Linked DNA regions of Homo sapiens: all the other regions are reported to be linked to region 7. Evidence: microRNA targets listed by miRTarBase, many of them from high-throughput screens and not tested one by one. Region 7 holds a microRNA gene; each other region holds the end of a gene's coding sequence.
What was found. The annotated mature microRNA hsa-miR-6807-5p reads GUGAGCCAGUGGAAUGGAGAGG and lies in region 7 at 1,337-1,358, opposite strand. An mRNA with a match to its seed (bases 2 to 7 or 8) in the 3' UTR can be bound and repressed. Matches are read on the target gene's strand: a 7mer-m8 pairs with bases 2 to 8, a 7mer-A1 pairs with bases 2 to 7 and ends in A, and an 8mer does both.

Region 1: miRTarBase lists SLC35F6 as a target of hsa-miR-6807-5p. The part of its 3' UTR that is shown has no 7-base or 8-base seed match.
Region 2: the mRNA of SLC16A10 is a reported target of hsa-miR-6807-5p. Seed matches in the 3' UTR shown: 7mer-m8 at 2,727-2,733 and 7mer-m8 at 4,042-4,048.
Region 3: the mRNA of F11R is a reported target of hsa-miR-6807-5p. Seed matches in the 3' UTR shown: 7mer-m8 at 1,160-1,166, 7mer-m8 at 2,605-2,611 and 7mer-m8 at 3,619-3,625.
Region 4: miRTarBase lists CKAP4 as a target of hsa-miR-6807-5p. The part of its 3' UTR that is shown has no 7-base or 8-base seed match.
Region 5: miRTarBase lists GTF2H3 as a target of hsa-miR-6807-5p. Seed matches in the 3' UTR shown: 7mer-m8 at 1,638-1,644 and 7mer-m8 at 1,930-1,936.
Region 6: miRTarBase lists DDX19B as a target of hsa-miR-6807-5p. The part of its 3' UTR that is shown has no 7-base or 8-base seed match.

The regions. Positions count from the first base shown.
Region 1 is chr2:26,778,012-26,782,457 of GRCh38, reverse strand. SLC35F6 (solute carrier family 35 member F6) reads right to left here. Exons shown (of 6, transcript NM_017877.4): 6 at 1,227-4,416. The coding sequence ends at 3,947. Among named protein-coding and RNA genes, the nearest start is that of CENPA, 5.8 kb to the left of the region's middle.
Region 2 is chr6:111,221,244-111,225,696 of GRCh38, forward strand. It overlaps SLC16A10 (solute carrier family 16 member 10), which reads left to right. Exons shown (of 6, transcript NM_018593.5): 6 at 760-4,453. The coding sequence ends at 992. Among named protein-coding and RNA genes, the nearest start is that of SLC60A2-DT, 36 kb to the right of the region's middle.
Region 3 is chr1:160,994,908-160,999,319 of GRCh38, reverse strand. F11R (F11 receptor) reads left to right here. Exons shown (of 10, transcript NM_016946.6): 9 at 229-277; 10 at 414-4,109. The coding sequence ends at 449. Among named protein-coding and RNA genes, the nearest start is that of F11R, 24 kb to the left of the region's middle.
Region 4 is chr12:106,235,670-106,240,122 of GRCh38, forward strand. CKAP4 (cytoskeleton associated protein 4) reads right to left here. Exons shown (of 2, transcript NM_006825.4): 2 at 2,212-4,453. The coding sequence ends at 3,355. Among named protein-coding and RNA genes, the nearest start is that of CKAP4, 10 kb to the right of the region's middle.
Region 5 is chr12:123,659,736-123,664,188 of GRCh38, forward strand. GTF2H3 (general transcription factor IIH subunit 3) reads left to right here. Exons shown (of 13, transcript NM_001516.5): 11 at 60-195; 12 at 311-347; 13 at 431-2,869. The coding sequence ends at 500. Among named protein-coding and RNA genes, the nearest start is that of TCTN2, 9.2 kb to the right of the region's middle. RefSeq lists an enhancer at 1-802.
Region 6 is chr16:70,333,376-70,337,826 of GRCh38, forward strand. DDX19B (DEAD-box helicase 19B) reads left to right here. Exons shown (of 12, transcript NM_007242.7): 12 at 146-1,930. The coding sequence ends at 207. DDX19A-DT (DDX19A divergent transcript) reads right to left here. Exons shown (of 5, transcript NR_039997.1): 3 at 445-585. Among named protein-coding and RNA genes, the nearest start is that of DDX19A-DT, 11 kb to the right of the region's middle. RefSeq lists an enhancer at 1-404.
Region 7 is chr19:58,547,229-58,551,642 of GRCh38, reverse strand. It overlaps MIR6807 (microRNA 6807), which reads right to left and starts at 1,358; the gene lies at 1,267-1,358. It overlaps TRIM28 (tripartite motif containing 28), which reads right to left. Exons shown (of 17, transcript NM_005762.3): 4 at 4,132-4,267; 5 at 3,930-4,046; 6 at 3,737-3,851; 7 at 3,463-3,609; 8 at 3,235-3,349; 9 at 3,051-3,157; 10 at 2,867-2,903; 11 at 2,733-2,781; 12 at 2,403-2,655; 13 at 1,993-2,312; 14 at 1,783-1,906; 15 at 1,608-1,694; 16 at 1,359-1,496; 17 at 928-1,266. The coding sequence ends at 1,090. CHMP2A (charged multivesicular body protein 2A) reads left to right here. Exons shown (of 6, transcript NM_014453.4): 6 at 1-77.

The sequences.
Region 1 (4,446 bases), not on the chromosome of region 7:
TTCTTTATATCTTTTTTTTTTTTTTTTTTTTTTTGAGACGGAGTCTCACTCTGTCGCCCAGGCTAGAGTGCAGTGGCCCGATCTCGGCTCACTGCAAGCTCCGCCTCCCAGGTTCACACCATTCTCCTGCCTCAGCCTCCCAAGTAGCTGGGACTACAGGCCCCCGCCACCATGCCCGGCTAATTTTTTGTACTTTTAGTAGAGACGGGGTTTCACCGTGTTAGCCAGGATGGTCTCGATCTCCTGACCTCGTGATCCACCCACCTCAGCCTCCCAAAGTGCTGGGATTACAGGCGTGAGCCACCGCACCCGGTTTATATCTTTATTTTTAAGCTTTTTTTTCTTTTTTGAGACTGAGTCTCACTGTTGCCCAGGCTGGAGTGCAGTGGCGTGATCTTGGCTCACTGCAAACTCTGCCTCCCGGGTTCAAGTGATTCTCCTGCCTCAGCCTCCTGAGTAGCTGAGATTACAGGCTTGTGCCACCATGCCCAGCTAATTTTTGTATGTTTACTAGAGACAGGGTTTTGCCATGCTGGCCAGGCTGGTCTCGAACTTCTGACCTCAGGTGAACCACCCACCTCGGCCTCCCAAAGTGCTGGGATTACAGGCGTGAGCCACCATGCCTGGCCTCTGGCTGCAGTATCTGTGGCAGAATGGGACAGGCGAGGATTGAGAACCAGGACATCTGGCTTTTGCCTGTTAACTGACTGTGTGACCCTTGGGAAGTTACTTCTGCTTTTTGGGTTTCTTCATTTGAACAATGAATGGAGGACTAGGTAATTGGTATGCTTTTCAAACATTGGAGAGATTTTCCACACCAACATTCTAGAGGCTAGCTCCAGACATCCTCTTGTGCCCCTTCTCTCTCATGAAAAATGTCCAGTACTGCTGATATAGTTTGGATGTGTGTCCCCACCCAAATCTCATATTGAAATGTAATCCCCAATCTTGGAGGTGGGGCCTAGTGGGAGGTGACTGGATCATGGGGGTGCATTTCTCATGAATGGTTTAACAGCATTCCACTTGGTACTGTCCTCTTGAGTGTTCTTGTGAGATCTGGGTGTTTAAAACGTGTGTGGCACCTCCTCCTGCGCCCCCTTGCTCCTACTCTGGCCACATAAGATGTGTCTGCTTCCCCTTTGCCTTTCCACTATGATTGTAAGTTTCCTGAGGCCTCCCCAGAAGCAGAAGCTACTATGCTTCCTGTATAGCCTGCAGAACTGTGAGCCAATTAAACCTCTTTTCTTTATAAATTAAATTACCCAGTCTCAGGTATTTCTTTACAGCAATTCGAGAATGGATTAATACAATTGCCAATTTTCCTTTTCTTTTTTTAAAAAATAAAAGCCAAAATAACACTTTTAAGATCCCAGGTTTTAGACAAGGCAGCTGTAGTCTCTCCATCATCCTCACTGTCCATTTGCTTCTTCCTGGGACAGACACTGTGGCCCAGTGAAGCTGAGGGGACCCTGGGATTCAAAGCTGGTGGAATGGACCCTCCCTCCCCCCACAAGCTGTAATAACCTGCTGGAATCCCACACAACCTGAGGGCTTCACTTGTCAACAGCTCCCTTCCCTCAGAGGCTATTTTGAGGCAGGCATTCGGTGTTTTATGACTGAGCTACCCAGGAGAATGGTTTGAGGCCACACTCAACTGTTCCAAGGAGCAGCACTGGACCAAAGGCTGCTTGGTTCCCTGCGGTTCCTGATGCCACCCCTTCTCTTCAGGGTGGTTACCTAGAAGACAACAGTACATGAGGCTTCCAGCCCAGCCCTAGGAGATCCATCCCAAAGACCCCACAGAGACCTGCATGGGAGGTGGGGCCACAGGTCTGGTATCAGGCAAACCTAGGTTGGAACACTGGCTCCATAAAGAGGAAGTCACTTAACCTTCTCTGGGGCATGGTTTCTTCATCTGTTCCCACCTCTGAAGACTATCGTAAGACAGAATGAAAGTTAAGCAACTTAACGCAACGCCCAGGATACCAGAATTATTCTAAATGGCAGAATCCTACTTAGTCTGTCATCTTGGGAGTTCTCTAGGCAGGCAGGTTGCCAGGGGTGGGGCTGAGATCCAGATGTGCTCTAGGTCCCTGTCTGCTGCAGAATCATGTGGCTGCTGGACCTGGGGGTCCCCCAGGTCCTTGCAGGAGCTGAGGGTAGGAGACTCCATTTGCCAAACAACTTAGAACTTTGGGCCTCAGTTTCCTTGTCTTTAAAAGGAACAGGTAAAGAATTCATAAAAACAATTGACAAGGGCTGCCTGGAATTTCCCTGTAATCTCTTCCAGGCAGAGGAGGCCTCAGAGGTGAGAGTAAGAGCAGGAAAACAGGGACAGGTTTCACTCTGTTGCCCAGGTGTGGTGGCTCAGGTCTGTAATCCCAGCACTTTGGGAGGCTGAGATGGGAGGATCGCTTGAGGCCAGGAGTTTGAGATCAGCCTGGGCAACACAGTGAGACCCATCTCTGCCAAAAAAATAAAACAATAAACCAGGCATGGTGGTACATACCTGTTAGTCTTAGCTACTCGGGAGGCTGAGGCAGGAGGACTGATTGATCCCAGGAGTTCAAGGCTGCAGTAAGCTGTGCCTGGGTGACAGAGCAAGACCCTGTCTCTCAAGAAAAAAAAAAAAAAAAAAAAAAGGCTGGGCGTGGTGGCTCATGCCTGTAACCCCAGCACTTTGGGAGGCTGAGGCAGGTGGATCATGAGGTCAGGAGATTGAGACCATCCTGGCCAACATGGCAAAACCCCGTCTCTATTAAAGAATGCAAAAAATTAGCCGGATGTGGTGGCACACGCCTGTAGTCCCAGCTACTCAGGGGACTTGCTTGAACCTGGGAGCGGGAGGTTGCAGTGAGCCGAGATCACACCACTGCACTCCAGCGTGGCAACAGAGCAAGACTCTGTCTCAAAAAGAAGAAACAAACAAACAACAAAAAAAACAGCACAGAAGGGTGGTGCTGTGGGCAGAGGGGTATTTCCAGTGGATGGGCTGTTACTGTTTTCTCAGGTTGGTCAAGATCACAGGCCCATGGAATGCTGGGGCCAGAAGGCACTAAGGCCACAGCATCAACATCTACTTCCCAGAGCATAACACCAAGGCCCAGAGCAACTGGGTAATGTGCTGGGAGCTACAATGAGTTTGAGGCAGAGTCTGGGCTAAAACCCATGTCTCCAGACGGGTTTAGGGAGGATCTTAGAAGTTTTAGAAAACATAATGCTTAGTTATGGCTGGGTGTGGTGTCTCACGCCTGTAATCCCAGCACTTTGGGAGGCCGAGGCAGGCAGATCACCTGAGGTCAGGAGTTTGAGACCAGCCTGGCCAACATGGTGAAACCCCATCTCTATAAAAGTTACCCAGGTGTGTTATGCACCTGTAATCCCAGCTACTCGGGAGGCTGAGGCAGGAGAATCATTTGAACCTGGGAGGCAGAGGTTGTAGTGAGCCGCCGAGATCGTGCCACTGCACTCCAGCCTGGGCGACAGAGCGAGACTCTGTCTCAAAAAAAAAAAAAGAAAATATAATGCTTAGTTCTGGTTTAAATTTGCTCACTGACTTTTCTTCTTTGAAGAATCAAATCTAGCTTATGACTCATAAACTAGATAACTATGATAATCTAGTTTATGATTCAGATACACTACGGTGGTAAATTCCTACAATTCAACTTCATGATTTAGCTCTAGTGCTGTAGGAGGGGTCCAGAGAGCTGAGGTCTGCCACTGCACTCAGGCTTGTGGGGGCTGGGTAACACCACCCTGCAGGTGGTAGTGAGAAAAAGAGGACTTGGGTGTTGTTATCTTCTGTGGCAGCAGCTGCCCTGGGGGTTCTGCAGGGAGGGGACAGGGTGAGGCCTTGGGGATAGGGCATTCGGGGCCCACCAGCCTGTGTGGCCTCAGTCTCAGGGAGAAGGAGCACCCGGGTGGCAGTAGAAGCCTCCAGGGAACCTCAGCTGGCATCATTGATGGGAGTGCGGGTGCCACCCAGCAGTCTCTCCTGCTCGCTCTCCTCTGCCAGGGGCCGGCCCCTGGACAGGCGGCCCAGCAGCGGACGGTGTAGCCCATTGTAGAGGGCAGTGCCTATAAGGAGTATGAGGAAGCCAAGGATCTGCAGTGCATGGAAGGCCTCCCAGCCCAGTGCCAGGCTCAGTGCCCAGATGACAACGGTGCGCAAGCTGTCCAACACCATGCGGGTGGTGGCGCTCAGTTCCTTGGTGACGCTGATGCCTGCGAAGTTGAAGAAGGCAATGCTGCTGATGTTGCCCAGCAGTGCCACGGCAATGAGCGGCTGCTGGCCCACCTGGCAGAAGGCGTCCAATGCATCCTCCAGTGTCCCACGAGGGTTTCCGCTGAAGGAGCCGGCGGGGATGTAGTACATGGGCACCAGCAGCAGGGAGAGGATCACAAAGCCAAAGAGGCCTGGGGAGTAGAGGAAACAGTTACACTCTC
Region 2 (4,453 bases), not on the chromosome of region 7:
TTCAGAAGCAGAACCCGAATATAGAATGCCATTAATAATTCTTATATACTTACATTTTCTTCCAGGTACTTATAAACCTTAGTCTATTTCCAAAATGTATTTAACAACCTAACTTTCATCCAAATTATTAAATTTAAAATTTTTCTTAATTTTGAATTATGATGTTAAATAGTTTTCATGTTATTTCATAAAAAACAAATACACCAAAGAGTAGTTTGAAAGCTGGGCATGGTGGCTCATGCCTGTAATCTCAGCATTTTGGGAGGCTGAGGTGGGAGGATTGCTTTAGCCTAGGAGCTTGAGACCAGCCTGGGTAATGTGACAAAACCCCATCTCTACAAAAAATATAAAAATTAGCCAGGCATGGTAGCATGCACCTGTAGTCCCAGCTACTCAAGAGGCTGAGCTGGGAGGATCAATTGAGCTTGGGAAGTCAAGGCCTGCATGAGCCATGATTATGCTACCGCACTCCAGCCTGGGTGACACAGTGAGACCCTGTCTCAAAAAAAAAAAAACGTCTACCTTTCTATCTTTTCAAGTAATGTCTTGGTATGAAAATCCAGAGGACTGTACTTTATGACAACGTTAAAGATATGAGATCTTTTTCTTCCTATCAAAAAGGGTTTATATTTCAGATCTGTTTCCTAAAAAAAAAAAAAAGTCTGATGTCTGAGATGTCTGAATCAGTCCTGTGGCTGATCTAGACCCCCTACAGAGCCACACTTGTTCTCCCTTGGTGACAGCTTTTTCCCTTCTCAGGGTTACTTCGTGACAAACTGGGCTCCTATGATGTGGCATTCTACCTCGCTGGAGTCCCTCCCCTTATTGGAGGTGCTGTGCTTTGTTTTATCCCGTGGATCCATAGTAAGAAGCAAAGAGAGATCAGTAAAACCACTGGAAAAGAAAAGATGGAGAAAATGTTGGAAAACCAGAACTCTCTGCTGTCAAGTTCATCTGGAATGTTCAAGAAAGAATCTGACTCTATTATTTAATATCTTACATACCTCCACCAGACTGGACTTGCTTTTTGAATTTTAAGCAAGTTTCCTTTCCTTTTATACAAATTGCAAATTTCATATTTTTTTAATCACATCCTAGGAATAGCACAATAATTGGGAAATAGAACCCTTATCACTAGAAGAACCATTTTCTGCCACTAAATATCTCTGATGTTTCCATGAGTCTGAGGGCAGAGACTCTGGTATATGAAAACGTCTGAAAGTCACATATTGTGAAAATTTGAAGCTATCTCAGTAAAAAGCAGCTTTGGAAACTGTGAATGATCTTTAGCTTGTACAAATGTTTAAAAATACCTCAGGCTATACTGAAAGGGTTGCAGTTTGGTTAGGAGTGGAAATATTTTGTTTGTTAATGATGTCTTCAGTTCTGGTACCTCTGTTTTACTTTCTTATGCTCTTTGGAAACTTTTTGCAAAATTTAAGCCTGGGTTCTAGATAATACCAGATCTACCTAAACCTCAAGTCTATGTTAAAGTTGCTTTCCTGCTGTTAAATAAGCTATGATATTAAGATATTCTGACTTGCTCCAGTGTCAAGGGACCTTCTGGGAGCAGGTGCTAACATAGTGTTCAGAATCAATATGTGAGATGAAAAGGATCCCCTCCAGGAGGATCCTGAGCTGTTCAGAAATCATTTAAGTTTACAGCGTTGTTCCCTTTGCGTTTGCAGTGCGTTTTACTCAAGTAGCCAGAAACACCCCACGTTTCTGAATTTGTTTAAACTGTAACAATAAAGTAAAATAGAATGCATGAAAGATATTCTGGCGATTGTAACTTAGAATTTTTCTGACTTCTGGATTTGTTGGCACTAGAACCTGATATTTAAAGTCTTACTGAGCAGCTATCAAGTGGCAGTTACAGGCACAAATTGGTGGAGGCTGGAGGATGGGGAGGGGAGCAAAACCCTTTATATTTGTGAAGAAAATATCTGTAGCTGATAGAAATAATTGCTTAAATTGGTTTATGAAATTAATGAGTCTGAAAAGGTTAAAAGCACTTATAAAAAGAACCAAGTCCTACATTTCCAGAACTTTCTGGCAAAAATTTGCACTCATATTATTTATCCTATGAACATTCCCATTGTTTTTTTTTGCTATTTATATACAGATTATCATAAGAAAGCTCTCAGTTTGAGGACCCAAAATAAAACCAAAGTCATGCCATGACCCATACTCATTTACAAAAACAAGAACACTTTCCTCTATCCCTAAAATTATGCTTTAGTACTTGAGGCCTTTAAAAGTTAGTGCTTTTGATTGTGAAGACATTCAGCAACTTACTTTGTCATACATGCAGTTGCACCTTACCACTTCTAATAGTGTCATATTTCATATTCAGGGGACTTAGATAATTTGCCTGTGGATGGTTCTTTTGCAGGAAAAAAAATCTACATTTTGACCATACTACCCTTTCATGTCCTTATTATAAGCTTTTAGAAAATGATTTCATTCAGTCATGTCCAGTTATATAAAACGTTACTTTCTCATTTTTGAGAAGTTCAACAAAACATACTACTAAGACCAATCATCAAACCCACTATTATAAATGTTAATTTTGGCTGGGTAAGGTGGCTTGCGCCTATAATCCCAGCACTTTGGGAGGCTGAGGAGGGAAGATTGCTTGAGCCCAGGAGTTTGAGACCAGCCTGGGCAACATAGCAAGATCCTGTCTCTACTAAAAATAAAAAAAAAAATTAGGCCAAGCATAGTGGCTCATGCCTGTAATCCTAGCACTTTGGTAGTCCAAGGCAGGGGGATCACTTGAGCCCAGAAGTTCAAGACCAGCTTGGGTAACATAATGAGACCCTGTGTCTACAAAAAATTTAAAAATTAGCCAGGCATGATGGTGCCCACCTGTAGCCCCAGCTACTCAGAGGCTGAGGTAGTGGAAGGATTGCTTGAGCCTTGAGATGGAGGCTGCAGTGAGCTATGCCACTGTACTCTAGCCTGTTCAACTGAGCAGAACCCTGTCTGTAAAAGAAAATCAAAAACAAAAAATAAATGTTAAATTTTGTTTTAAGTTTTAGCACAGACTCCCCTCAAAACACCTTCTCCCCAATTTTACAGAAAGTAATTTAAAAATGAAAACTTTACTCTGTAAAGACCTCTACAGTGTTTTTCTTTTCAAAATTTGGCTGATTTTAGGAAAAAAGTGATCATCTGAAACTAAAAGAAATTGCTTGGTTAGTTTCCATATTAAAACAGCAGTGACAAGTATATATAACTTAGATCTCAGCATATGTGTTTGTATATTAAACTTCACATATGTAGTTTTCAGTTTAATGGAATGAATCAAACTGGATCTATAACACTGAAAAAGTTCTATTGTAATAGACTCATACGGAGAATACTCTGCTATAATAATATAAAATTAAGAAGAAAAAGTATAAACGTAAGATGCTAAATTCCATAAATGCATATTTAGTACTATGTTTTTTGTGGGAAAAGTTCTAAAAGTTTAAAATGCACAAAGAAAATGAAAAATACTAATATAAAAATTTGTGCTTTAATCTAGTCAAACTAAATCCTTTCTAATTTCTGAATGAAGTGTTACTGCTGCAATAAAGTGACCTGATAAGCCTAAATTTTTTGTGTTCAATCCAGACACTTTTCTGAGAGTCTGAAAAGAATACAGAGTCAGAACTCTGTTTTTATCTCCTCATCCTGTTTTTGATAAGACTCAGAAAATTCTCAAATTCGAAAGGTTCTGGCATTTGAGGCCAAAAAAAGCATGAAAGGGAGTAACATTCCTTTTTATAGATACTCTAGATTGGATACTATTGTAACAGATGGCCAAGAAACTTCCAGAAACATTTTGGTTAAATTTTATTGCAATGGATATTGCTGGGATCCATCCATTTAAGCAGTAATATACCACCCAGATTATTGATACTTTATGCAAGATGTGTTCATCTCTTTGATCATATTTACAATGCTTACTCCATAGCCCTGCTACAAGACTTAAAATTTCCACTGAAAATTGCATAGTTCTTGTATTAAGATTCAAATTCTGGCTGGGCGCAGTGGCTCACGCTTGTAATCCCAGCACTTTGGGAGGCTGAGGCAGGCGGATTGCCTGAGCTCAGGAGTTCGCAACCAGCCTGGGAAACACGGTGAAGCTCCATCTCTACTAAAATACAAAAAAATTAGCCAGGCGTGTCGGCATGCACCTGTAGTCCCAGCTACTCGGGAAGCTGAGGCAGGAGAAGAATCCAGGAGGCAGAGGTTGCAGTGAGGCGAGATTGCGCCACTGCACTCCAGCCTGGGCGACAGAGCGAGACTCCATCTCAAAAAAAAAAAAAAAAAGTAAAAGTACACACAGTTTAAAAGTAAACATGTTTACTTCGGATAATTCTAATCCTTTTAGCTGCATTTAAGAATATTTTAATTTATACGAATGTTACTTGAAATTGGCCTATGTCCAGATGACTTTTGA
Region 3 (4,412 bases), not on the chromosome of region 7:
GGGGAATGGGTTGAAGGCAGAAGCAACCAGTTTGGAGGGAAGGCATTTGGATATCCAGCCCTTTCTCTGTGGCCTTGGCCCTGGGTCTGTCCTGTTACCCCACCCATACCTGTCTGCTGCGCACTCTGTGCTTCTGTAGCATTCTCGCTTCTGGCCTTTAAAGTTGGCAAGGGGAGGTTAATAAGCACCTAGGTGGCTGAGTGTCTCTGTCTTCTGGCTTGTTCACAGGACTTCGAGTAAGAAGGTGATTTACAGCCAGCCTAGTGCCCGAAGTGAAGTGAGTATGCCTCCCCTGGGCAGGGGTGGGCCACCTGGGGCTGGAGTGAGGAGATTTCTAGCCCATGTTTATGTGTTTTGGGGATTATCAGCTAAAGAAGACTATTGAGAGTTGACTGGATGTTTTATTTCTGCAGGGAGAATTCAAACAGACCTCGTCATTCCTGGTGTGAGCCTGGTCGGCTCACCGCCTATCATCTGCATTTGCCTTACTCAGGTGCTACCGGACTCTGGCCCCTGATGTCTGTAGTTTCACAGGATGCCTTATTTGTCTTCTACACCCCACAGGGCCCCCTACTTCTTCGGATGTGTTTTTAATAATGTCAGCTATGTGCCCCATCCTCCTTCATGCCCTCCCTCCCTTTCCTACCACTGCTGAGTGGCCTGGAACTTGTTTAAAGTGTTTATTCCCCATTTCTTTGAGGGATCAGGAAGGAATCCTGGGTATGCCATTGACTTCCCTTCTAAGTAGACAGCAAAAATGGCGGGGGTCGCAGGAATCTGCACTCAACTGCCCACCTGGCTGGCAGGGATCTTTGAATAGGTATCTTGAGCTTGGTTCTGGGCTCTTTCCTTGTGTACTGACGACCAGGGCCAGCTGTTCTAGAGCGGGAATTAGAGGCTAGAGCGGCTGAAATGGTTGTTTGGTGATGACACTGGGGTCCTTCCATCTCTGGGGCCCACTCTCTTCTGTCTTCCCATGGGAAGTGCCACTGGGATCCCTCTGCCCTGTCCTCCTGAATACAAGCTGACTGACATTGACTGTGTCTGTGGAAAATGGGAGCTCTTGTTGTGGAGAGCATAGTAAATTTTCAGAGAACTTGAAGCCAAAAGGATTTAAAACCGCTGCTCTAAAGAAAAGAAAACTGGAGGCTGGGCGCAGTGGCTCACGCCTATAATCCCAGAGGCTGAGGCAGGCGGATCACCTGAGGTCAGGAGTTCAAGATCAGCCTGACCAACATGGAGAAACCCTACTAAAAATACAAAGTTAGCCAGGCATAGTGGTGCATGCCTGTAATCCCAGCTGCTCAGGAGCCTGGCAACAAGAGCAAAACTCCAGCTCAAAAAAAAAAAGAAAGAAAAGAAAGCTGGAGCTGGTGGCTTAGGCCATCACCCTTCCCTTGGCTGGAACTACTGGACAGACCCTTTTGAGATGTGCCTGTGGTGCTGTGGAGATGTGTGTAGTGGTCTTAGCTCTTTGTTGAGCTTGTGTGTGTGTTGTGTAGTCTTAGCTGTATGCTGAAATTGGGCGTGTGTTGGAGGGCTTCTTAGCTCTTTGGTGAGATTGTATTTCTATGTGTTTGTATCAGCTGAATGTTGCTGGAAATAAAACCTTGGTTTGTCAAGGCTCTTTTTTGTGGGAAGTAAGTAGGGGAAAAGGTCTTTGAGGGTTCCTAGGCTCCTTTGTACAACAGGAAAATGCCTCAAAGCCTTGCTTCCCAGCAACCTGGGGCTGGTTCCCAGTGCCTGGTCCTGCCCCTTCCTGGTTCTTATCTCAAGGCAGAGCTTCTGAATTTCAGGCCTTCATTCCAGAGCCCTCTTGTGGCCAGGCCTTCCTTTGCTGGAGGAAGGTACACAGGGTGAAGCTGATGCTGTACTTGGGGGATCTCCTTGGCCTGTTCCACCAAGTGAGAGAAGGTACTTACTCTTGTACCTCCTGTTCAGCCAGGTGCATTAACAGACCTCCCTACAGCTGTAGGAACTACTGTCCCAGAGCTGAGGCAAGGGGATTTCTCAGGTCATTTGGAGAACAAGTGCTTTAGTAGTAGTTTAAAGTAGTAACTGCTACTGTATTTAGTGGGGTGGAATTCAGAAGAAATTTGAAGACCAGATCATGGGTGGTCTGCATGTGAATGAACAGGAATGAGCCGGACAGCCTGGCTGTCATTGCTTTCTTCCTCCCCATTTGGACCCTTCTCTGCCCTTACATTTTTGTTTCTCCATCTACCACCATCCACCAGTCTATTTATTAACTTAGCAAGAGGACAAGTAAAGGGCCCTCTTGGCTTGATTTTGCTTCTTTCTTTCTGTGGAGGATATACTAAGTGCGACTTTGCCCTATCCTATTTGGAAATCCCTAACAGAATTGAGTTTTCTATTAAGGATCCAAAAAGAAAAACAAAATGCTAATGAAGCCATCAGTCAAGGGTCACATGCCAATAAACAATAAATTTTCCAGAAGAAATGAAATCCAACTAGACAAATAAAGTAGAGCTTATGAAATGGTTCAGTAAAGATGAGTTTGTTGTTTTTTGTTTTGTTTTGTTTTGTTTTTTTAAAGACGGAGTCTCGCTCTGTCACCCAGGCTGGAGTGCAGTGGTATGATCTTGGCTCACTGTAACCTCCGCCTCCCGGGTTCAAGCCATTCTCCTGCCTCAGTCTCCTGAGTAGCTGGGATTACGGGTGCGTGCCACCATGCCTGGCTAATTTTTGTGTTTTTAGTAGAGACAGGGTTTCACCATGTTGGTCGGGCTGGTCTCAAACTCCTGACCTCTTGATCCGCCTGCCTTGGCCTCCCAAAGTGATGGGATTACAGATGTGAGCCACCGTGCCTAGCCAAGGATGAGATTTTTAAAGTATGTTTCAGTTCTGTGTCATGGTTGGAAGACAGAGTAGGAAGGATATGGAAAAGGTCATGGGGAAGCAGAGGTGATTCATGGCTCTGTGAATTTGAGGTGAATGGTTCCTTATTGTCTAGGCCACTTGTGAAGAATATGAGTCAGTTATTGCCAGCCTTGGAATTTACTTCTCTAGCTTACAATGGACCTTTTGAACTGGAAAACACCTTGTCTGCATTCACTTTAAAATGTCAAAACTAATTTTTATAATAAATGTTTATTTTCACATTGAGTTTGTTTAAATCCTGAAGTTCTTACCTTAAGAGAATTGGGACTCCTAGAGTGATTGGACATTCAAAATATTCCTGATAGTCTTGTTAATTAAGAGATTAGGATATCTTTCCATTACCTTGATAATTACGTTTTAATTTAGCTTTTTTCATTGGCCTGTGTTTAAATGCAAATAACCCCACAATGGACATTTCCTATGTTAAAGTGACATTTAGGGGATAAAAAATGAGAGCAGTTCCATGGATTTTGGTGTTTCCCCTGAGACATGAACTCAGCATAATCTGGGATAAAATGATTGAGTGTTAAGGATGTGTTTGTTGTTCCTGTCGTTTTTTTATTTTCTTCAAAGTATACAACATGGTTTGATATGCACATACATTTGTGTAATGATTGCCATGGTCAATTAACACATCACCATTTTTGTGTGTGTGTGTGTGTGTGTGTGTGAGGGAGTCTTGCTCCGTTGCCAGGCTGGAGTGCAATGGTACAACCTTGGCTCACTGCAACCTCCACCTCCTGGGTTCAAGCAATTCTCTTGCCTCAGCCTCCTAAGTAGCTGGGACTATAGGCGTGTGCCACCATGCCCAGCTAATTTTTGTATTTTTAGTAGAGACGGGGTTTCACCATGTTGGCCAGGATGATCTCGATCCCTTGACCTCATGATCCGCCCACCTCGGCCTCCCAAAGTGCTGGGATTACAGGCGTGAGTCACTGCACCCGGCCACATCACCTCCCATGTTCTATCTTACGTATTCAGAACTTGTTCATCTTGTAACTGAAAGCGTGTACCCTTTGACCAACACTGTTTTTCCTGTCTTAACAGGATCTACAGATCAAGGACAGGGGAGGGGATAGTGGAGGAAAACGGAGTTAGTCTGTTTCTAAATGAGGGGACAGTATGTTTCTTGGGGCCTGAGGACAGCTTAATAAAGTAGACAAATGAAGAAAAACAACAATTTGCATTAAAAAATATCCAATTCTTTAGCTTTTCCAGCTTATTACCCCTTCTCTGGTACTAGCTATGAAAATCTGATATGAAACGGAACATTTTTTCTTTTCTTTTCTTTCTTTTTTTTTTTTTTTGAGACTGAGTCTTACTCTATCACCCAGGCTGGAGTGCAGTGGAGCGATCTCAGCTCACTGCAACTTCTCCCTCTGAGTTCAAGCGATTCTCCTGCCTCAGCCTCCCGAGCAGCTGGGATTACAGGCGCCTGCCACTGCACCCGGATAATTTTTTTTTTAATAGTTTTAGTGGAGACAGGGTTTCACCAGCTTGGCCAGGCTGGT
Region 4 (4,453 bases), not on the chromosome of region 7:
ACCATCACATCATCTTCATCACCACCATCATCATCTCCATCTCCACCATCATCTCTATTATCAACACCATCACCATTCTAAGTGACTTGCCCAAGGCCACATGGTCAGTGGTGTAGTAGTCTCCTCACCAGGGTGCTGTCAGTCCTGCCTGAGAAGTTTCACTGCAGCCTCTTATCCTGGTGCTGGATCTGCAATTTAACCAACATGTTCAGTAATTTGTGTATATTGTTTGTTCAAAGGGCAAAACAACCTGTTTCCCGAAGCTTCCCATTACTCATGAAAGCATTCCAAGGGACTTCCCCCAGCCCTTCAAAAACCTGTTCTAACCACCTCTAGACCAACCATGGCACAATGGTCACTCCTTCCTCTTGGCCCAATACACCCAAGTATGGCACCTGTATTTCTAATACCTACCACTTTACATGACTGTCATTCCCACTGGGCTAGTCCTGTACATTTTAATTCACTGATACTTAGCAAAATGGCTGGCTATCAGCCCAATAAATGTTTATTGAATGAATGAACACTATATTGAATGAAGAAACAAGACTGAGCTGCATTATTTGGTGTAAGAACTCTAACTGCCCCACCATCAGAAATATGTGAATTCCTAATATATTCCTTTTATTTTCACCACTTGAATTTATATTTATCAGACACTTGTCAATATTTTCTTTTATAATATTAATGAGAATCTATTAAACCACTCCATAGTCAGAGATGAGCAACTGCAGAAATGACAGGAGAAACAGCAAGAACATACTCAATGCAACCAATTGGCCTGAAAAGGAAATGAATTTAATTTTTTCCATGCCTGCGACTTTATGCTGTTCCGCACCCTCCCCAAGTGGGTGAAAGTAGCCATTTAAAGCATACATGTCAATACTTAAGACTTTAAAATAAAAAGTAAAATGGTTTTGAAATAAAAATAGAAATTATTTACAGAGCCTGTCCTGATTTGCTAACTGCTTTGGAAAAAACTTCCAGCTCTGAGTTGTGAAGCTTTGAGGGACCCAGAGTGACTGACAGCAATTCAGAGATGAGGGGCCTTTCAGCCAGAAAGGGGGACATCAAGCCACAGGACCTCAGGTCCTAGCCACCCTCTACTCCCTAGGTGGGAAAGAAGAAATCTCTTGCAGCCTTGGGCTCTGGAACAGGACAGATATTCCACAGGCCAAATGGACCTGCACTGGTGTCAGTGGACGGTAGAGGATGCTGTCCCAGTTAGAGCAAGGATGAGGTCCAAAGCTTAGCCCTGCCACTTCGTAATGAATGACCTTGTATGAAGCTTCTCAGCCTGCTGTTCCTCTGTGAAATGGGAAATGATACTGCCTACCTCGGGGGACTGTAAGAAGGAATAACAGGTTATTATGCATGCTGAGCACAAGACCTGGCACACAGGTACTCAATAAACAGCATGTGGTTTTTATTGGGTGGAGGGTGGAAGGCAATCCAGAGAAGGAAACAAGCCCAGGTGTGCACTAGGGCTGAAGGTCACTCAGATGGTCTGAGACACTGGTTCTCAACCCTGACTGGACATTAAAATCAGAGAGGGAGCCTTTAAAATACCAGTGCTGGCCAGGCATGGCGGCTCACACCTGTAATCCCAGCACTTTGGGAGGTCGAGGCGGGCAGATCACGAGGTCAGGAGATTGAGACCATCCTGGCTAATACGGTGAAACCCTGTCTCTACTAAAAATACAAAAAATTAGCCGGGCGTGGTGGCAAGCGCCTGTAGTCCCAGCTACCCAGGAGGCTGAGGCAAGAGAATGGCCAGAACCCGGGAGGCGGAGCTTGCAGTGAGCCAAGATCCTGCTACTGCACTCCAGCCTGGGTGACAGAGCGAGACTCTGTCTCAAAAAAAAAAAAAAAAAAAACAGTGCCAGCCTCTTTATGCCTATTCAATCAGCATCTGTGCGGGCAGGGCCCAGGCATTTTTTAAAAGCTCCTAGGAAGATTCTAATAGGTAGTGAGGGTTGAGATCCTGTGCTTGAAGCTAACAGAGCTGGAGACAAGTAATCATTGAACACACTTGCTAACAGTCCATCAAAGGAGGTCCCCGGCCCAAGAGTGAGGCCATCTCGGTTTCAGAATTAAAAGAAAAAACAGCCTTAAAATAGTAAACTTACCTATTTGCTAATCGTTTATACCATGTGCTAATAAAACACATCATAATTACGAAATTCTCAGAATGTAACCACTCTGGAAAAGTCATAACAAAGCTCAAGTGTTTATTAAGAATTAAAAATACTGTAAATAAGCCATACAGTTCATTTCACAGTAAACTAAACAAAACTTTTTTTTTTTTTTTTTACTTTTCGGGTTTTTTTTTTTTTTTTTTTTTCAATTTTTTTTGGAAGGGCAAGACAGCCATTAAAGAACAATACAGCTCAGAGGGAAGGGAGATACAGCAAACAATTACACAAACGCAGTATGCACGCTCCTTGCCGACAGGGCTGCCCAGACGGCAAACCTCTTCATGGACATCATGTTAAAATAAAAGGACTTGGCCTGCATTCCCCAGGGAGACCCCCTATTCCACTGTAGACAGCTCTCCTCACGAATTTTTTGAAAGAACCCAAGGACTCCCCTTTCTGGTAGTCGAAACCTGTGCATTCCTTGGTGACCTCCGGAGAGAGAACATGGGCCGGCAGTGGGGACAGAGGGCACCGGGACTCTGCTGGGTGTAGTGCTTCACATTCAGAACCGCCTGGATGCTTTGCATAGTTACCTCTGATATCACAAGATGCGTCAGGAAGAGAAACGACACGCACACCATGAGGGAGGCAGCCCTCAAGCAGCGGATTCCTTTCAAAGAAAGACCCAGGGGCTTCTCCCCTCCTCATTCAGAGCTGACAGCTATGAGCTTTAACCGGTTCAAAGTGGAAGACAAGTGAGAGATATCTCATAAAAATTTCGGCCAGAACAAAAAAAAAAGTAAAATTAATTTTCCTTAAAGACAACTAGAAAGAAAAGGGTCCCCCCAACCCACCTTTTTTTTTTTTTTACTTGAAATCTGCCAGCCAGACAGGATTTCTGAGGTTAATCTGCTTCTGTTAATCCTCAATTTAAGCCTTTATCATTTTTCTCTGACTAGAGACATCCATGAAAAGCCACCTGTTATTCACAGGGGCTGCGCTTCAGGAAACCAACCAAATGCAGAAGCAGAGAACTTAAATATTGTAAATAAGTTAACTGGGCATGAAAATACAATGCCTTGGTGTTCAGGTGGTGACAACTGCTCTTTAAGAGGGGACAAGAAATTGGGGGGTAGGGGACACATGGGAAAAAACCACACATTTTTTGGTCATGAGAAATTGGACTTTAAATCCGCGCCCTGCACACGCAATTCATTTAGACCTTTTCGTGAATCTTCTCCACTTTCACAAACAACCTATCCAGATCATTCCTCAGGTCATCTAGTAAACCCTTGGCTGATTCCAGATTGTTCTCGTTGGTTTCTATTTTGACCGAGTATGCAACCAAACTGTCCACAGCAGTCCTGAGCATTTTCAAGTCCGCCTCCACTTGGCTGACTGAGGCTTTCAGGTTGTCTAGAGAAGAAAGTCTGTCCAGGAAGTCCTGAGGAGGCAGACGGGCGGCCTGGGCTTGGTCCTGACTGAGCAGCGTGTGCACCTGCTCCTGCACCTTCTGGAGTGATTCCACGGTGCTGGGGAGCTCGCCCACACTCCTCTTCAGCTCCTCCACGTCACCGTAGAGCACCAGCTGGGTCTCGCCCAGGCTCCTCACCGTGCTGGCCAGGCCATCCTGGTCTGCCTCTGAGGACCCGAGGCCTTCCAGGCGCCCCTGCAGGGCGGCCAGGCGCTGCTCGTGCTCCTGGCTCTTGGACAGGAGGGACTCCAGGCTCTCGGTCTGGCGCGCAGAAGCCACCTGCATGGAGAGCACCCCATCCTCCACGTGCTGGAGCCTGGAGTCCAGTCCCTGACTCTTTTGCTGGAGTGCCTCAAAGGCTTCCGAGTGTCTGAAGCCTCCGTCCTCCTTCGGCCCGTGGGAATCGGACTTCAGCTGGCGGAGCTCTTCCTCCAGTCTCCGGATCTCCTCCGGGAGGCGGGAGACGGACTCCTCAGACCTGAGAAGCTTCTCCGTGAGGGCCTGCAGGGCGAGCCGCTCCGTGTCGGCCGCCTCCTTGAAAGCCTGCTGCTCCTGCTTGAGGCTCACCAGCTCGCGGACCTCGGTGTAGATGTCAGACTCCATAGTCTGAAGGGTACTTCTCAGGGCCTCCATGTCCCACTCTCTGGACTTGGCTGAGGTCTGTATCTCCTTCACAGCTTCCTTTAAGGCTTTCAAATCCTGCTTGTTCCCCTCAGATTCTTCCAGGGAGGCAACCTTTGCCTTCATGTCATTGATCTCCTTCTGGCTCCTCTTCTGGACTTCTGTGAAGATGGCGATGTTGTCGTTGATGGATTTGGTGAGCTCCGTCAGCCGCTCCTCC
Region 5 (4,453 bases), not on the chromosome of region 7:
TCATGTTATTTTTTTCCCATGTTTTAAATAAAAGTTTCTTTTGTTTGTTTGTTTTACAGTGGGTGTTTCTTCCCGATCAAGATCAGAGATCTCAGTTAATCCTCCCACCCCCAGTTCATGTTGACTACAGGGCTGCTTGCTTCTGTCATCGAAATCTCATTGAAATTGGTTATGTCTGTTCTGTGTGTTTGTCAAGTAAGTTAATGTACCTAGTTTTTCTTTTTTTTCTATGTTGGGGGGCAGGAAAACAGTTTCTCAGCTGTGTTGTTTTTCAGCCACCCTATTGTTTCTTTTTTTTTTTAATTTACAGTATTCTGCAATTTCAGCCCCATTTGTACTACGTGCGAGTAAGTATCTTTGAGATTGTGTGGGTGGCTAATACTTCACAGCTCTAGAACATTAAAAAATGTTTTCCTCTCTGTAATTTCAGGACAGCCTTTAAAATTTCTCTGCCTCCAGTGCTGAAAGCCAAGAAAAAGAAACTGAAAGTGTCTGCCTGAGGATAAAATATTTTCCCCATCTTTTAGAGCTGTTAATAGAAATTATATAGCAGATTCTTTGTTGGGAAGACTGAAAAAAATAAAGATAGGTATAGGATAATTTTTAATATGGTGACCTTACAGAAAATATTTCCCAAACATCCTTTTCATCCTGTGCTTCTGGAGGACTGATTTGTTTGAGGGAATCATTCTATGCATTATATCCTAAAATATTCTATGACTGGTTTCTGTCCATGTTTGTGGCTTTCATTTTTTTAATGGGATGACTATTAGTCAAAGTCAGCTTGTCATGACTCATCATAGGCTTTCTAACCTACTCCCTGAATCCGGGTCCTCATTGTGAAATGCATGCCATACGAAATTTGAACGTAGCTTTGGAAAAAGGGACTATTTGTGGAGTAATGGCATTAATCAACATAGAACATCTTATTTGAATCAACAGTTAACTTCAGTAGTCATGTGAATAAAATTCTTATTGTCTAAATTGAGACAGCCTCAGATATTTGCAGATATTTACTTTTTGTCTGATATCAGTACATATTTGGACAAAGTCATCTAAATAATAGTTTGTCACCAAATAACTACAAAATCTCATTTTAAATGAGTAAGGAGAACGTGTACAGAAGCAAATTTTCTTCAAAATAGTTGTGGGAAGAGCTTATATGTGAAAGCTTATGACTGGTTTTGAGGGAGAACTTACTGGAGAAAATGGACTCTATGTTAAGTATGGTTTTCAGATAGAATTCTTTCCTTTTTTAATGAGGAAAAAAAATCCACATTAATATTGAAACTGCACCTGTAATCCCAGCACTTTGGGAGGCTGAGGACAGAGGATTGCTTGAGCCCAGGAGTTCGAGAGCAGCCTGGGCAGCAAAGTGAGACCCCATCTCTACTAAAAATTTAAATGTATTTATTAAAACTGTTCTCTAGAAGCTTTGGACTGAATCCCAAAAGTGTTTATAAGTTCAAAAGCAAAAGTATTTGTAATTTCAACAACAAAAAATGTATTTCTTTATGTAATCTTGAAATTATTAAAAGTCCTTTTAGCTTCTAGCACATATTTGTACAAAGAGTTTAAGGAATGGTGGCTGGTTTGGTTTGTTTTTTAAAAATGTTTACTGACGAGGCCGGGCGTGGTGGCTCACCCCTGCAATCCCAGCACTTTGGGAGGCCGAGGCAGGCAGATCACAAGGTCAGGAGTTCAAGATCAGCCTGGCCAGTATGGTGAAACCCTGTCTCTACTAAAAATAGAAAAATTAGCCATGCGAAGTAGCAGGTGCCTGTAGTTCCAGCTACTCGGGAGGCTGAGGCAAGAGAATTGCTTGAATCCAGGAGGCAGAGGTTGCAGTGAGCCAAGATAGCGCCTCTGTACTCCAGCCTGGGTGACAGAGCGAGACTCTGTATCAAAAAAAAAAAAGATCGGGCACGTTGGCTCACGCCTGTAATCCCAGCACTTTGGGAGGCCAAGGTGGGTGGATCACGAGGTCAGGAGTGATCAGGCTGGGTTTCTGTTTTGTTTTGTTTTGTGAGACAGAGTCTCGCTCTGTTGCCCAGGCTGGGGTGCAGTGGTGCAAGCTCGGCTCTCTGCAAGCTCTGTCTCCTGGGTTCACGCCATTCTCCTGCCTCAGCCTCCCAAGTAGCTGGGATTACTACTCTACTGAACCCATGAGGCAGAAATTTGAGACCATCCTGCCCAACGTGGTGAAAACATGGTGAAACCCTGTCTCTACTAAAAATACAAAAATTAGCTGGGCGTGGTGGCAGGTGCCTGTAATCCCAGCTACTCAGGAGACTGAGGCAGGAGAATTGCTTGAACCCAGGAGGTGGAGGTTGCAGTGAGCCAAGATCAAGATTGCGCCATTGCACTCCAGCCTGGGCGACAAGAACAAAACTCTGTCTCAAAAAAAAAAAAAAAAAAAAAGTCTGTACTGATAAAACCCATTGTGTACAAAACTTTGTATGTAAGGAAGATTTTAATTTTCTCTTTATACAAGCTGAGTCATATTTAAATAATTTGATGTTGGCTTAGATAATTTCAGATAGATTTTATATTCTGGATTTGTGTTTTTGTTAACAAATATACAAAGACTTTGGTGATCACTTTGCAAATATTTGTTAATCCTTGAGTTTGAGAACCTGTCTTTTAAAAATAATATTTTGTATACTAATTAAGTGTAATGGAAATCACAATTTTAAGTCTAGGAAATAAAGTATTATATATACTTTCAAACAAGCTAGCAAGGCTTTTATTATTACTTTTTTATTTGAAATATCTTATATATTTGGTTAGTTCTGTTTAACTTGTTTTTAACTGTTGCCCTTATGAGTTATTTTATATAAATTTTTACAATAAAATAATTTGATTTTCATATTTGGTTGAATTATTTCCTTTCATTCATTGTTTATCTCATGCTCATTCAACTCTTCTTCAAATGTGTACTTTTAAACTGCATTTGGTCAAATGCCAGACAATTTTTTATTCAACTCCGAAGTACTTTAATTTCAAATCTTGGTCTGCGTGCAGTGGCTCACGCCTGTAATCCCAACACTTTGGGAGGCTGAGGCAGGAGGATCACTTAAGCCTAGGAGTTCAAGACCAGCCCGGGCAGCATGGCAAAACCCTGTCTCTAAAAAAAATATAAAAATTAGCCAGGTGAGGTGGTTCATGCCTGTAGTCCCAGCTACTCCAGAGGCTAAGGTGGGAGGATCGCTTGAGCCCAAGAGGCGCAGGTTACAATGAGTCATGATCATGCCACTGAACTCCAGCCTGGGTGACAGAGTGAGACCCTGTCTCTAAATAAATAAATGCTCCTGGTTTTTGTATGTTGATTTTGTATCCTGCCACTTTACTTATTTCATCAGTTCTAATAGTTTTTTGGTGGTGTCTAGGTTTTTTCGGATATAAGATCGTATCATCTGCAAACAAGGATAATTTTACTTTTTCCTTTTTAATTTGAATACCTTTTATCTCTTTCTCAGGACTTATTGCTCTAGCTAGGACTTTCAACACTATGTTGAATACCAGTGGTGAAAGTGGGCATCCTTACCATGTTCCAGATTTCAGAGGAACGGTTTTCAGTTTTTTTCCTGTTCAGTACGATACTAGCTGTGGGTCTGTTATATGTGGCTTTTGTGTGTGTGTGTTGAAGTATGTTCCTTCTTTGCCCAGTTTTTTGAGGGTTTTTATCATGAAAGGATGTTGAATTTTATCAAATGCTTTTTGAGCATCCATTGAAATGATCAGATGGCTTTTGTTCTTCCTTCGGTTGACACGATGTATCACATTGATTGAGTTGCCTATGTTGAACCATCCTGTTGAACCATCCTTGCATCCCTGGGATGAATCCTACTGGGTCATGATGAATGATTTTTTTTTTTTTTTTTCGAGATGGAGTTTCGCTCTTGTCACCCAGGCTGGTGTGCAATGGTGTGATATCAGCTCACTGCAACCTCTGCCTTCCTGGTTCAAACGATTTCCCTGCCTCAGCCTCCCAAGTAGCGGGGATTACAGGTGCCTGCCACCATGCCCAGCTAATTTTTTTGGATTTTTAGTAGAGACTGGGTTTCACCATGTTGGCCAGGCTGGTCTTGAACTCCTGACCTCAGGTGATCCACCTGCTTTGGCCTCCACAAGTGCTGGGATTACAGGCATGAGCCACCACACCTGATTGAATTATCTGTTTTTTTTTTGGTTTGTTTTTTTTTTGTATTGAGATGGAGTCTTGCTCTGTCACTCATGCTGGAGTGCAGTGGCCTGATCACGGTTCACTGCAACCTCTGCCACCTGGGTTCCAGCGATTCTCCTGCCTCAGCCTCCTGCGTATCTGAGATTATAGGTATGCGCCACCATGCCCGGCTAATTTTTTTGTATTATTAGTAGAGACGGGGTTTCACCATGTTGGCCATGCTGGTCTCGAACTCCTGACCTCAAGTGATCCACCCACCTTGGCCTC
Region 6 (4,451 bases), not on the chromosome of region 7:
GCTCTGACTGTTGCTGTCAGTGACTAGGGGCCCTGCTGCCCCCTGCTTAGGCACCCGGAGCCTTTGGGGCTGAATGAATGATTGCTGTGGCCCAAGATGGGGCACATTCCTGGGCAGGGTAGAGACCTGTGTATCTTTCCCCCAGATAAGAAGATAGAAAGATTGGACACAGATGATTTGGACGAGATTGAGAAAATAGCCAACTGAGAAGCTCCACCAGCCACTGATGCCAGCCCTGGCACTGCCCCTGCACAGGAGACAAGTGCGTTCAGGGCACAGGCCCCGACATCACCCCAAGGACAACGGCACAAGTAGAGAGAAACTACCTACCTCACTTCAAATTATGTTTGGACTTGACAAAAATGTATGCAAATGATGGGGGATGGTAGAAAAAAATTATTTACACAACCTTGGAAGATTAGGCATGAATACACAGAGATTTACCTTTTGGAAGTTTCATCTTTTAATTTGGCCAGTGTTTCCTTCATGCTAATCTAGATGCTGTGGCTGATTACTTGCCCAGGATCTCCTGTGGCAGCCTCTGCTTGTTCTCTGGCTTGGAGTGGATGGGGCAGCCTCCAGCTCCTGTGGAAGTAATGGAATAGTGGTGGAAAGGGAACACAGAGAGGGAGGCTTCCAGTAAGATAGGTGTGTAAGCCCAGCCATCATGTTTGGAATGGCATGAGGCAGCAGAGGAGGCCTGAGAGCTGCTGCTTTGGACTTGGGGGTGGGACAGCTCATCTGAGTATTGCCAGCCCCCTGTCCTAGTGCCCACAGCAGAAGGGAATTTGTTAAATAAGCATGGACCAAAATGCCAACCTCTCGGTTGTGTATATGGGTTTGTGTCACAGGACTGTGACCTGTTCTCGGTGGGTGCAGTCTGTGTAGAGTGCACATCTGATTATTGGTGGGTCCTGTGCCTGTGCTTAAGCAAGTCCTGTGGAGAAGTCATCATGGAGAATTAGTGGTGGCCCTAGCGTGCCACAAAACCTGGTCTCATGAGCATTTGCAACATCCCTTTTACATCCTTAATATCCCCTTACCCCACAGTAGCCCCAAACAAATGTGATCTGAGGTTTAGATCCTCAGTGAAAATTGTGGTTTCAAGTCTTCATGGCCAGCCTCAAGGCAGTTCTAGATGTGATCAGCAGTAGTCACAAATTCTTGTTTTGTCTCCACACCCAGAAGGCAAGTTTTGTCAGAGCTGGGGAATAATTTCAGATATTTGACATCTTGATTATAAAGGGCTTCTGAACATCTGTGTTTACTGCCTTTGGAATACAAACAGGTGCAACTGAGGGACTAGCTACACTACCACCATTTATCTGTCCAAGGCAAGAGTATCACCAAGGCCTTTGCTCCAGCCTTACTTGGCATCTTTGCGCAAGATAGTCAGAGCAAACAATAGTAATGGACACTTCTCACACCTGGCCAAGGCTGTTGGTACCCACGAAATGACAGCAAAGATGAGAGGAAACTGAATTGCAAGAGCAATATGAAACCCCAACCAAGAGGAGTACTCTGCAGTTCTTTGGCTTTGGTATAGAGTGGCCACTTTCTCTAGGACCTGGAAGAAGAGTTTGATGGCTAAGAACGATTGTGATCCTAGGTCTTCTTTGTACGCATCTCCGTATTTAGGCCAGATCTGCCTCCTGGGAAGGGAAGGGGCCAATGTCAGCCTCCAGGTGATTTCTTTAATCTGACATTACAAAGAGACCAACAGACTGCCAATTCTACCACATTCCCCTGGTGGGTACTCGACTATGTAGTTTTCTCTATGCTTCTGGTCAACTCTGACACATCTTGGAATTCTTGTAATAAGAAAAGAAATTTTTATACTTTTTTCTCCTTCCCTGAGTCCTGTGGACCAACCCTGAAATACTAAAAACAAGGGCAATAATTAAAGAAGTATAGACTCTTTAGTAGGCCACAGGCAGAGCAGACTCCCACCTTCTCAAGCACATACAACCTCTCTACTGGTGTAGCCCCAAGTGTGAGAAGGAAAGTGGGAAGCGGGGTGCTGCAGACTCTTTGACAGCAGGAGGAATGGGAATCTGGTAGAAGTATAGGTCAACAGTTCTTTTTTTTTTTTTTTGGAAACGGAGTCTCACTCTGTTGCCCAGGCTGGAGTGCCGTGGCACGACCTCGGCTCACTGTAACCTCTGCCTCCCAGGTTCAAGCGATTCTCCTGCCTCGGCCTCCTAGGACTACAGGTGCACGCCACCGCACCCAGCTAATTTTTGTATTTTTAGTAGAGATGGGGGTTTCACCATGTTGGCCAGGCTGGTCTTGAACTCCTGACCTCAAGTGATCCACCCACCTTGGCCTCCCAAAGTGCCAGGATTACAGGCGTGAGCCACCGCGCCCAGCCAACAGTTATTAATCAGGGGTCTTGGACCTCTAAGAATTCACTGGATGGGTTTCATGGAGTCTACGAAGTATATATACAGTAGTTTGAGTTTAAATGTATTTTCCTGGCTGGGTGCAGTGGCTCATGCCTGTAATACCAGCACTTTGGTAGGCCTAGGTGGGCGGATCACCTGAGATCGGGAGTTCGAGACCAGCCTGACCCACATGAAGAAACCCTATCTCTATTAAAAATACAAAATTAGCTGGGCTTGGTGGTGCATGCCTATAATCCCAGTTACTTTGGAAGGCCGAACCTGGGAGGTGGAGGTTGCGGTGAGCTGAGATTGCGCTGTTGCACTCCAGCCTGGGCAACGAGAGCAAAACTGTCTCAAAAAACAAAACAAAACAAAAAGGCCCGGCTCAATGACTCACACCTGTAATCCCAGCACTTTGGGAGGCTGAGGCGGGCAGATCACCTGAGGTCAGGAGATCAAGACCAGCCTGGCTAACACAGTGAAACCCCGTCTCTACTAAAAATACAAAAAATTAGCCGGGCGTGGTGGCAGGCGCCTGTATTCCCAGCTACTTGGGAGGCTCAGGCAGGAGAATGGCCAGAACCCGGGAGGCGGAGCTTGCAGTGAGCTGAGATCGCGCCACTGCACTCCAGCCTGGGCAACAGAGCGAGACTCCGTCTCAAACAACAACAACAACAACAAAATATATTTTCCTGGGGAGACTCCCAAAAGATTATATGTCTTTTAAAAAGGTAAGTCCCACTGTTGTGGATGGTTCTGGAATGTTACCCCAGCGTTACTACAGCTCATATTTCTTCCTTATTCCTTCCATATTCATTCCTGCCAGTGCCTAGCTCCCAGGGCCATAGCTGCGTCTGTGACCTTGTGTAGCCTAGAGCCAACAGTGATATAAATCTGCATTGAGCTTGGTGAGCTTTGGTCCCTAGGGATTCTTTTACTGATTTTAGTAAGTACCTATATATGAAATGATAGCTGGGTGGGTTGACTCATGCCTGTAATCCCAGCACTTTGGGAGGCTGAGGCAGGAGGACTGCTTGAGCCCAAGAGTTCAAGACCAGCCTAGGTAACAAAGTGAGACCTTGTCTCCACAAAATAATTTTTTTTTAAATTAGCCAGGCATAGTAGTTCATGCCTGGAGTCCCAGCTACTGGGGAGGCTGAGGCAGGCGGATTGCCTGAGCCCAGGAGTTCAAGGCTGCAGTGAGTTACGATTGTGCCGTTGCACTCCAGCCTGGGTGACAGAGCAAGAAAGACTCTGACTCAAAAAAAAGAGAAAAAAACACTGGGTGCAGTGGCTCATGCCTGTAATCCCAGCACTTTGGGATGCCAAGGCGGGCGAATCACCTGAGGTCAGGAGTTTGAGACCAGCCTGGCCAACATGGTGAAACTCTATCTCTACTAAAAATACAAAAATTAGCTGGGTGTGGTGGTGCATGCCTGTAATCCCAGCTACTAGGAAGGCTGAGGCAGGAGAGTTGCTTGAACCTGGGAGGCAAGAGGTTGCAGTGAGCCGAGATCTCGCCACTGCACTCCAGCCTGGGCGACAGAGTGAGACTCCGTCTCAAAAAAAAAAAAAGAAAAAAGAAATGATAAACTGCTCTAGAACAGAGAAACTTGGGAAAAGGAATGTTTGGCCCAATGGAAAATTCTGGATATATTCATTATCTATAAATAATGCATTTTATTATTTTTCTTGAGTGTCATTCATTGGCTGTATGCATAAGAACTAATTGTTGATATATTCTTTTAATTGAAGATTAACCTGAATTGAGGATTAACATGAAGATTAATTAATAATAATTCAGGTTAATTGAACTTTAATTATGAAGTTTTCATATTACCAAGAAATCATTAATGAGTATAAGAAGGAAAGAGCTGGGTGCAGAGTGTCACGCCTATAATCCCAGCTACTTGGGAGGCTGAGGCAGGAGGATCACTGGAAGCCAGGAGTTCCAGATCATTCTGGGCAAACAGCGATATCTTGTTTCTTAAAAAGTTTAAAAAAGAAAATTAAGCCAGGCACAGTGGCTCACTCCTGTAATCCCAGCACTTTGAGAGGCTAGGGCAG
Region 7 (4,414 bases):
CTGCCACTCCGAGATAACCAGTGGATGCCCAGGATCTTTTACCACAACCCCTCTGTAATAAAAGAGATTTGACACTAGTCTCCAGGCCCATGTGACTTTTGGCCTGATGTGGGACCAGACTGGGGTCCCTGGGAGGATGGGCATCACTAAGGCAAGAGGCACTTGGTACTAAGCTAAGGGTGGGGGTTTGGGGCAGGGGTGAACAAGCAAAGTCCACCTGGGATTTTCAGGAGCTGGGAGCTTCAGGTGAGCTGTGGGCCCTTCTCCATCACCTCTCCCAAGATACTGGACTGCCCAAACACCCTGGTAGGATCTTGAGAGTCCAGGCCTCATCTGCCAGGCTGTAGTGTCCAACACTGTTTGGTCCAGTGATGGTTTAATGACAACACTCAAGGACAGTCCAGACCAACCAATAGAGGCAAGGGGGTGGCCTTGGGATTCACACAGGCTCGACTGTAGAGTAACTAAATCATAACACAGAGATGAATGATAATGTTAAGTGGACTCAGCAAAGGGAGACAGGGAAAAAAACCACATCTGGAAGGTCTCAGTTCACTGTGGGACCTTCTGAAGATGAGAAACAGCTACAGCACCAAAATTTAGGAAGCATTCAGTAGAGTGGCTGTGCTACACCTGGGGCTAACCCTGCCTACACAGGGATGTAGGTCACACCTACCCAGTATCCCACAGGGTACCCAACAAGCCTCTAGTGTGTACATCCTTTGCCCTGGGTGACCCTCCCCATACCCAGAAAGGGCAAGGAGGCAGTCTTCCCCACTCCCTAGGCATCCATACACATGGGCTTCGATAGGTGGGGGACAAGACCCCCCTCCCTTGTGCCACCAGTGCTTGATAAGGCTGACTAGTAGATACAGTCAATAAACCAGGCCCCAGGACCACAGTCCCCCAACCAGCCAACGCCTGAGGAACTGGTGAAGTTTTTATTAAATCCACAGAAGTAAAAACCATATCGTGAGGAACTGGGGGATGGGGCCACCAGGGAGTGGGAGTCAGGCCACCAGGGGAGTGGGGATGGGGTGACAGGACAGAGAACAGAGCCAGGCTGGGCTGGCCATGGGGGCTCCAGCCTCAGGGGCCATCACCAGGGCCACCAGACAGCTCCTGGGAACTCAGGCCAGCACCAGGCAGGCTCATCGGCGGGGGCTCCACCAGCACAGCAGAGAACTTGGTGTCACCGAAGGCCTCGTTCATGCGCGTCTCGAAGAAGCGCTGCAGGCCGATGATGGACTGCACGTCTGCCTTGTCCTGGGCCAAGCAGGAATGCAGTGGATGAATGGGTCCTAGTTCTTTCCTTCACATCTCCCCCTGCCCACAGCCTCTCCATTCCACTGGCTCACCTCAGTTAACTTGTTGAATTGCTTGAACATGCGGCCCACATCCTGGGCAAACTCCTGTGGGGAGCTGTAGGGAGGTGACAACTTCTCCTGGAGGCGGGCACGGATCAGGGTCAGATCCAGGGTGCCACCGGGCTGGTCCTGCAGGCAGAGATCACACATACACACACAAAGACACACATATACATGCACAGGTTGAGGGCGAGACCCAGCAGCCACCACCCCCTTCCCCTTTCCCATCCTAGGACTCACCAGGGAGAAGGTGGAGTCGGTAGCCAGCTGATGCAGGGGGCGGCAGGGTTCGTGACAGAATAGGGCCAGCAGTACACGCTCACATTTCTACAAACATTGTAAGGGATGTCACAGCTCTGGGCAGCACCTATAAAGCCTCTCTGGGCAACCCCACCTAAGTAACCCCAGCCCTCACCCGCTGGTTGGCTGGTGAGAGCTTGGCCACCACGCCAGTGCTGTCTGCACCATCCAGGCTGAGGCTGCCATCCTCCTCCTTCAGGTCAGGGAGCACATGGCAGAGTGAGCAGCTCCACTCCTCCCTAGGGTGAAGAAAATAAGGGTCTGCACATGATCCTGTCCAGACAGCCCAACACCCAGACTTGACCCCCACCAGCCTCACACTCACCCTGGTACATCCTGCAGGGCCGGCAGGTGACAGTCCAGGTGGAAACAAAACTCACACTGGTTGCACATAACCAGATCGCCTGGCTTCTGGCAGACACGGCAAATGGTGGCACTGTCATCCAGGGTTCCCGGGCCACCACCTGGGGCTGAGGTACCCTCAGGAGCCACCACCTCCAGCCCTGAGCTGGTGCTGCCACTAGGTGAGGCCAGGCGGGGACCCTCAGCACCAGGACCCTCCGCAAGAGCCATAAGCACAGGTTTGGTCTCAGGGCCCTCAGTGGCAGTAGGAGGGGCTCCAATGGCAGCCTCCGTCTCCTCCTCCTGCAAGGTGGTGATGAGGGGTGTTCAACAGGGTCCAGACCTGGACTACAGGCTTCATCCTACAGCTATAGTTCCTTGGGACAGGCTTACCTTGACAATGGCCATGCCAGCCAGGGGTGGGGCACCAGGGGTTCCTGCAGGCGCAGTCCCTGGCTGGCCGGTAGCTGCAGCGGCAGCGCCACGTTCAATAACAATAAGGTTGTAGTCCTCAGTGGTACTGCCTGGGAAGACCTTGAAGACGGGTGGCTGGCTGTCAGCTGTGAGGTCCAGGTCCAGGCGTTCAAGGCTCACTCGTGGCACCTTGCGCATAAGGCCGCTCACCTCGCCCTCACCTGAGCGGGACCTGTAGATGCAGCAACCTGGCATGAGTACACCCCCACCCTCCATCCACCTCACCCCCAGGGGAGGTGCCATACTTACCGTTTCACACCTGACACATGGGGCTCTGCACTTGAGTAGGGATCATCTCCTTAGAAAATGGAGAAAGAAGACTGGCAGGTTGGGGTAGAAACAGCACTGGGGCCCTTCCCCACCCACTAGGCAGACCCACTCACCTGACCCAAAGCCATAGCCTTCCTGCACCTCCATGGGCTGTGAACAAAGCAGAACCCTCTGCCTCAGTGGGACAGGAACCCTACTGGACCCCATTCCCTGCCCACCCCCCCTGCCTGGGTCCTCTCTCCTGCTACTGGACCCCATTCCCTGCCCACCCCTTCCTGGGTCCTCTCTCCTGCTCACCTGGCTGCTGCCAGAGCCCTGCTTGCTCAGGGGCCCTGGGGCTCTTGGAGGGGCCATGGGTGCAGGGCCTGTTGAGTTAGTGCCAGGACGCTCTGCCACAATCTTGCCTGCAAAAAGAAGAGAGAAACGTAAGTAGGTGCAGCACGTGGGGTAATAACAGAGTGAGGTAAAGCTGGGGACCCACCAAAGGCCTCGGCACTCTTGGTCCAGGCATTGAGGTCCCACTGAAACTTCATCTCGCCATGTGGCTCCACGGGATCCACAATCATCTTGAGGGCCCGGTGCAGCTGGAAGTAGATCTGGTTGGGAGTGAAAGGGAGGAAAGAATGAGCACACCAACAACAAATAGGGATTTGAGGTATTGGGAACCACCTGCCTGGAACCCACCAGCCAGGAGCCCACCAGTACACACCAACTTCTTAGAAAGCAAAAGGGCTGTGTTGTTGTCACTCTCCAGAGCCCAAGAGGCAAAGCGCAGAATGTGCTCCTGGTGCTTCTGGATCTTGGTCATGGTCCAGTGCTGCCGCTCCAGGCGCTCCTGCTGCCCCTCAGTCACCTTCTGCAGATAGAAGGTGTATGAGGTAAGCAGAGAAGGCAGAAGAATACTAGGATCACTCCTCACCCCAGACAGCATCATCAATCAGCAGAGGGGGCTCAGGGACCCTTCTCACCGGCACAAGGCTTACCTGGGCATCATTGACCAGCACACGGCCCCGCTTATTCAGCTCCTTCATGATCTGCAGGATGGCCATCTTGACATCCACTTGCACACGCTTCTGTACGTCAGACACCTGGCGGATTCTAGGGGACACAGCAGGTCAGGCTAGGTAGGGTCTTGCTGCCCTGGGCCACCCCCACAGCCCCAGAACCCACACTTACGAGCTGCGAACCTCCTTGGTGCTCTTCTGCAATGTTGCATGTTTGTCCCCAAGGCGCTTCACCAGTGAGGCCAGGAGCTTGCGCTGGTTCCTCACTGCATCCTCTAAGAACTGGTACCTGAGAGCAGACAGATGTGTTCCTGAGCACTAAGCTACGGAAGGGGTGGCACCCACCCACCCAACCACTATGCCTTGGGACTCACTGGTGGTCCTTGTGGGCATTGAGCTGGCAGTCTCGGCAGGTGAGAGTATCACAGCTCTCACAAAACAGCACAAGGGGTTCATGCTTGTGTACGTTGCAATAGACAGTACGTTCACCATCCCGAGACTTGGCTGGCCCTGGGGAGTGGGAATCATAAGGCTGGACCTTGCCCTTCACCACCCCCAACTCAGGAAGCAGAATGAGTTGGGGCCTCATTTCCGGCCTGTTCTGTGACACTGGGCCATTTATTGGGAAGATGTAGAGGGTGTGGCCAGGGAAGAACA